Homo sapiens: one gene and its partner. The protein of the gene in region 1 interacts with the protein of each later gene in a biochemical or structural test. Each region holds a gene or a part of one and is shown on either strand. Other genes may lie near its edges.

Evidence for each region.
Region 2: the proteins of KCTD1 (region 1) and TFAP2A form a complex in vitro, tested with the Homo sapiens proteins (one study listed by BioGRID).

The regions. Positions count from the first base shown.
Region 1 is NC_000018.10:26,454,473-26,458,124, forward strand, and holds the end of KCTD1 (BTB/POZ domain-containing protein KCTD1), read right to left. Parts: intron 1,430-3,652; coding exon 1,271-1,429; 3' UTR 438-1,270; downstream 1-437. UniProt on the Homo sapiens protein: May repress the transcriptional activity of AP-2 family members, including TFAP2A, TFAP2B and TFAP2C to various extent.
Region 2 is NC_000006.12:10,397,935-10,401,586, forward strand, and holds part of TFAP2A (transcription factor AP-2-alpha), read right to left. Parts: intron 2,656-3,652; coding exon 2,514-2,655; intron 772-2,513; coding exon 483-771; 3' UTR 1-482.

The sequences.
Region 1 (3,652 bases):
TTGGAATCCACTTACCATGTTGAGAGGGGCCCAAGCCACATAGAGGCCAACAGCCAAGTATTTGCAGCCATCTGGGTGAGCCATCTAGGACATTCCACGCCAATCAGACCCCTGGATTGGAGCAGTGGAGCAGACATGGAGCAGATGCAGCCCAGCGAAGGCCAGTATCACAGGCCAGAACAAAATGTTTTAAGCCATTAAATTTTGGTGTGACTTGCTCTGCAGCCAGATAACTGAAATAGGTGTAACCGAAAAGTCCGTAAGAAGGAAGATTTACCTTGCTGACCAATGCAGAATAACAAAGCACAGGAAATAACATTTGCTGGGTCGGAAGACAACTGTCTGGAACAGGTGATGACATCCTTAGCCTTTAGTAGGTTTTGACTTCAAAACTGACCCCGGCTTTCATGCCTCTTTTTGATGCTCAACACGGACAATTTCAAAAAGAAAAAATTTCACTTTAATCCAGCCTCACCCCCACATGTGTGTTTCACACAGACCTTATTTTTTAAACAGAGTTTATTGTATTTAATACATTATAAAATTTGAAAAATTGTAGGAAAGCAGCAGACTTGAACTGGAGCAATTCTAACAAGGAATAATTCTGGCCCCTTGGCAAAACTGATCAGTTTTAAAACAAAGTAAAGTTCACATCTGTGAGGTGGACAAAAAAGTGTGACTTCTGTACAAACTACATTTAAAATTTCATGTCTAACATCTTTGCAATGTGCTCATGAGGGTTTTTCTGAAGTCCTGCCTGGTCCCTGCCTAAAGAAAGACGTGGAACCTCCATATACAAACAAACTTGATTCAAGGTGTTTTGTTTGTTTTGTTTTTTTAAAAAAAAAGGAAAAAGAAAGACAAAGGAAAAAAGAAATATGGATGGCTGTTGTTGGCAATGGAAACTGTAAGGAGACTGTGTCCTCACCACTCATGGCTTGTTTATTTGTCAGAGGCCTCGGAAGGCCCAGGACACTTCACGGCCATCACAGCACCAACTGCGGCTGTCACCTTTTTTTTTTTTCTTTTTTGCATTTCCTACCTTTTGACATATATATATATATTTATATATTTTTTACACCTTGAGGATATCACTATTCCAATTGTTCCCATATGAATACAGGTGTGGTCTCTATTGGATATAAATGTGTCTTTTATTCGATTTTACGTCCAGGACTTGGTTTGCTGTCCCAACTGCACATAAATGTCCCTTTTTTGTTTGAGTTATTGGTTGTGTGTGTTTTCCTTTTTGCATAAGAAATATGTCCATTTAGTCCAGAGGCTCTTGCTTTATCCGGATGACGGAGGGTACACGGGGCGTCCGCCTCAGTTCCCGCCGAAGGACGTATTCGCTGAACTGGGACGAGTCTACTCCTCCCCCACAGGAGCCCACGATTTCAAATCCTCTTTGCTGCAACCTCTCGAGGACCTGCGAGGGAACAAGACAAGCATCCAGTTAGGGGTGAGGTAAGTCCTATGGCTACATAAACACCCCAAAGTTTGAGATTATGCGCACTCTGGTTCATCTCATCCAGCACCCATGTCCCTGTGAGCTGCTCCTCTCAAAGGAAGACCCTGGATTAATGGGCAGGAGAGAGGAAGCAAGCATTTCTAATGCCTAAAATGTGCCTTTCATGCTTGCTTTACACACACCAGCTACAACACTCGATGGTGTTAGGCCCATTTTATAAATGAGAAAACTGAGGTTCATGGCTAGTCAGTGATGGGACTGGGTTTCCAACTCAGGTCTGTTTGGCCTCAAATCTCCTGTTTTTGTATATGCAATGCTGCCCTCTCTGTCAAAAATGAGGGTTCACATTTCAAAGCTCATTTATCACTAAAATACATCCTATGAGATGATAAAGAATCTGGAAAGGACAGTGATGGCAGAGTTTACTTAGTCAGTGATTCATTTGTACTCTCAACTCCGCCTTTGTTCAAGTTTTCCTAATACCGAGTTAATATATATGTTTTGGCCTGGAAGATTGATGTAATTTCAATAGCAGAACAAAGGGATTACTGAAGACACTAGAGGATTATCTACAGGTTTTCAAGTTTGTAACATCTGAAACAGATTTATTGCCCTGCATTCATTCAAGGAGACAAGAACCAGCACAATGATTACATATTAGAAAATGTAAGAAAAATAAAGATATTCTAAACTTCTTATACAAATGTAAGCCATAGAATCTGTTCCTTAATTTTGAAATCAAAAACCTAACGCCAGCAAGATTCCTGGGTTTGGCACTACATGTCTGACACTGTTAAATGCAGGAAACAGTACCTGTGACTCTTAGATTAGATAGACAAAAATACAGGAAACTGATCTGGAGCATTCTGTTTCTTTAGGAATCCAACAAATATTAGACTTGCAAATGTTTCCTGCCCGAGTTCTGAATATAATTAAATTACTTCCACACCACCTTAAAGGCAAAGTGATTCAATCATAACTTAAAAAAAAAAAACAAAACAAAAAAACCCACCTCAAAAAAACTTTTATTGGAATGAACTGAAATGTAGTCAATGTAAAGTGAATCCTTACTTTTTTAAAAAGTATTATTTTTTAGTTGCCTACTTCAATATAGAATATAGTCTGCTATGTTGCAAAACAGCTTACTAGATGAGATGGGAAAGCAAGAGAGTATGTTTTCTAAAAATTAATTAAAACCTCAAGTGCTGGCAAATTAAAAAAACATACACAAGTCCTTATAAGAACAAAATTAACATTCTACCCAGCAGTGCTCTATTTCTGTAGGTAAATTCACAATGCATATGCATACCTGTCAGCATAAGGACAGGAAGAAAACAATCCCTAAATTCAAAATCAAGATGTGCTTTGGTGGCAGGTAAATACAAAGACGAAGAACAGCTCCCTCCATGGATTCCCCAGCAGAGGCAGGAATGCAGCCCTCAGCAAGAGGCATCCCAGCTTGCTTGGCCAAACCAGCACCCTGGAAAAGATCCCTTGCCATGATTAGGAGAGGAAATCCAAAGGGGAGGAAGCCATGAACAGCAGAGAACCTAACCCTGATGTCCATTTTTCTTTGAGTCTTAAGGTCACTAAATGCTAACAGGAGGAAATCGCTAAGCTCTTCTTCGGAGTCCGATAGGCATCATGTGATAATTATTCAATGTGATCCAATGTTACCTTGGATGTGGTCAAAAGCTTATTTCAATGTAATGCAAACAGCTGATGGAGCCATTACTTTGGAAACAACAACACGTTCACAGCAAAGTTCCTTAAACAGTGATCACACAACAACTTAGTGAGGTATCGGGTGTCGTAAGCCTTATCCCAGAGTCTCTGCGTGCCCATAGGCTGGTGCCTATTTCTTGGTCGGTGGAGCAGGACGCAAGGGTAGGTCATGGCTGTGTCATATGACCACGTTAATCCAGATGAAAATTTCCATATCTGATGTGGGAAACTGTCAAGCACATGAATTGATGATCGTTATTCACTGGCCCAAAGGTGTGGCCGAGGCCTTCCTGTCCTGGCTCTGAATGGTTCTGCCCCTCTGTCTGCTCCAGTGATAGCCAGGGCAGGCTGTTGTGTGGAAGGGGACAGGCTTTCTGGGCTTTAAAGAGGCTTAAACTGCTGAGGCCGTCTCAGGAACGCTGTGCAGGGCCATGCGGGAGCACCACACACCTCCAG
Region 2 (3,652 bases), on another chromosome or scaffold:
TGGCTACAATCTGAACTGAAGTATGTAAGGGAAGGTGGTGACTCAGTCCCATGAAGCGCATATAATTTTTTTTATTTTCACTTTTTTTTTAGAAAAAAGTTTTTAATTTTTGTTGTTGTTGTTGCTGTTGTTGATTTGTTGTTTTGTTTAAAAAAAAAAGGGTTCACAAACTTGGCAGAACTTTTCTCTGCTGGCTTCACGGCCTGTTCTGTTCTCTTAGGCTCCACATGAGGGCACAGGGGTGTGGGAGCGGGTGGGGAGGTCGAGGCGGGTGCAGAGTCGGAGAGGCTGCCCCACTGACAGTCGAGAGGGCAGTCCCGGAGACTCGGGGGGACCCAAGGGCAGCGGCGGCGGCGGCGGCGGCAGCAGCAGCAGCAGTAGCAGCAGCAGGAAGGGTTGCTGATCCCGGAGCTGTCACCCGCCGGAGGGTGGGCGCGCGGGGGGCTGGTGAGGCGTGGGAGGGGCGGGGCGGGAGGAGAGCCTCACTTTCTGTGCTTCTCCTCTTTGTCACTGCTTTTGGCGTTGTTGTCCGTGTGGCTGTTGGGGTTGTTGCTGAGGTACATTTTGTCCATGGCCTTGAGGGCCTCGGTGAGATAGTTCTGCAGGGCCGTGACCGCGGCACACACCGCGGGGCTGCCGAAGCCGTGGGAGATGAGGTTGAAGTGGGTCAAGCAGCTCTGGATGCCGGGCTCCAGGATGGGGTTGGGCCGTGAGTTCCCCAGGGGAGATCGGTCCTGAGCCAGCAGGTCGGTGAACTCTTTGCATATCTGTCTGCAGCACAAGTGGAGCAGAGAGAGAGACATAAGGCTCCACTATGGGCAGCACTAGCAGCAAAGAGAAAACCTCCCTCCCTGCAGCTACCTCTGCCGGGATCCAGCCGGTACCTGACATGACCCAAGACCCCAGAGACAGACAGTGTGGCCACATGTTGGGAGATCCAGCCACCTTTCAGTGACCACTAAACCATCTCTCTTTACTTCCTACCTTCACAAATGACTCTCTCTCTCTTTCCTCTCAGATATGGTAAACTTTTATTCCCACCTTTCTCCCTCACACAAAACATCCTAGACATAGGAAACCATTTCACACATTGGAAGAGAAAGAAAGGAGTCACGCAGACCGGAAGTCAGAAACAGTAGCATCTTGCGAACATTATGCTGCAGCCATCAGCCTTCCTATTCAAAATGTCATAAAGACCCTCTTCCCTGCTCCTCTAGAGAGACCTCAGCAGCAGTTTGTAGAATGAAGTCCACACTCGTTCACCTTCAAATCAAATTCAGGTCAATGTGGACAGAGAGACAAAACTTTACTTGGGATTATTTTGCCTTTAAAAAACAAGAATAACAAAAAAACAAAACGGGCCCACACAAGCCCTGTTACTTGGAGATAATTCAAAGTAGTGTTTGGGAAGAAGAAACAGACATTTCGATTTCCCATTCCTCCTCTTTCCCCACATAGCTCAAAATAAAAATACTGCAGGGAAATTGTGGAGATGGGTGTGCTTACGAAGCCTGGGGAAAGAGAAAGTTGAAATTTCGCAGAGGTAGATGAGGCCTGCACTCAGGAAGCTCTGTCTCTGAATCTGGGAAGCAAGGGCTAGCTGGGGCCTTCCAGGGGCAGCAGCAGCCTGGCCTGGGGGGCTGGGGAGGGGGATGAATGAGGAGCCTGGGCTGGCTCCCTTCTCCAAGGCCAGCTGATGTCCCCAGGCCAGAAACAGGGTCCCACCCAAGGCCTCAGCTTCTGCCCTCTGCTTCCATGCCCTCCTGTGACATCAACTTTGATAATTAAGGGCTTCCAAACAAGCCTTTTAATTTCCAGAAAACACATCAAAACAGTCATTTTCTTTTCACACATCACCTGGAGAAGCCTATTCAGCCCAGGCACCGATGGGAATATAACTTGGGCCATTTTGAAATCTATTTGACTTCTCGCCTGTGGGCTAAAACTTATGTGGGGTGTGGGTCTCTCTCTCTCTCTCTCTCTCTCTGTCTGTGTGTGTGTGTGTGTGTGTCACTTTCGAGAAGGGGTTGTGAAAGGAAGGTAAGAAATGGAATAACAGATTAGGGTTGAAACTAGGACAGCTTCTGGCTTGCACATTTTGCAGGCCACTGTTTAATCTTTGCCCTTGGAGAACATATTGATAGGATACAAAAACTGATATAGGTAAGCCTGTTACCCCTTTGAGGATTTGATTCTGGTCTTTCTGAAACAACATAGTCACAAATCCACCCTTAACTTCAGTCAAACCCCTCCTACAACCCACTCCCATACACACTCATTAAAAAAAAAAAAAAATGAGTAAATGGGACAGATGAGAGGAAAAAGATGGGAGCGCCCAAGAATCCCACCTGTATTTCTTCCTTAACATAGACTATATATAAGATGGTGTTATAACTGCAACAAAGCTGATTAACACAAAAGGAAAACAAGGGAGAAGGAAGAGCAAAAACGATTTTTGTTTCTCTTTCTCTTGACAACGAGACACAGAGACCCCATAGAGGTAAATGCCTTACTTTGTAGCCAGGAGCATGTTTTTTCTTGTCACTTGCTCATTGGGATCGGAATGTTGTCGGTTGAGAAATTCAGCTACTGCTTTGGCAGGAAATTCGGTTTCGCACACGTACCCAAAGTCCCTGGCTAGGTGGACAGCTTCTCCTGGCAAGAGGGGAGAGGAGGGAGCCAGTGCGAGAGAATGAAGAGTGGGGATCCTAACTTCCTCCCCACTCCCAACTCCCTAATTCCCTTCACCCCAGATGTTGCAGGAAACACAAACTACTTGTTTTCTCATTTCAGGCATTTTATTTCCTTCTCTGTAGGATCTGGTGGATGCATTTATCAGGAAAAATGACCACTTCTCCTAGAGGGCCAAGAAGACTTGAAAATGAAAATCTCATCCACCAACCTCCAGTCCCATCCCCCACCCTAAATGACACTTCTCCAAATTCTCTTTTAAAATGCTTCTTGTATTCCAACTTCACACCTATCAACACATTCATAAATGATATTCATAATTACTCTTTGAGCTTTTCTGCAAGGGAACAACTGAGGGGTTACATTTTAACTTGATCACATAAATTATCTGTTCATCCAAACCGATTAACCAAGAGGATTTGAGGGTCACTCCACTGAGTCTGTCTGTGTTGTTGATTTTCGAATCTTTGGTTTTAATTTCCTGAACCAGTTGGTTTTTACTGCAGGGCTTCCTGCCATTAGCTCCAGCTCCGGAAGAACGCATGCGCCAATTAGAGCATCAAAGCCCTCTCCGCAGAGCTTGTTTCCATAAAATGGAGCGGATCACAAACAATAACAGTTCTCCAGAAACTGCCTCCCTGCTACAGAACTCAACCCCCAAACCCAGACGAACTCCACGCTATACCTTAAGCCACCACTACCATTTTCTTGGCTTATAATTCTTTTGGAGTATGAATAGTGGGTTCTCTATGGACTGTTATGATTTTTAATGTAATGGTACTGTAGTTGAGTTTCTGGCACTGAACAATTGCTGATTTTCTAAACAGTTATATTACTATCAATCTCTGACATCATCAACAAAGAGAATTCATAGGATTCCTCCTCAAATATATGGTTTTAAACATTTTAAAAAATAATTTACAAAGCCAGAACTTAAATTCAATTGTAATATATCTCCTCA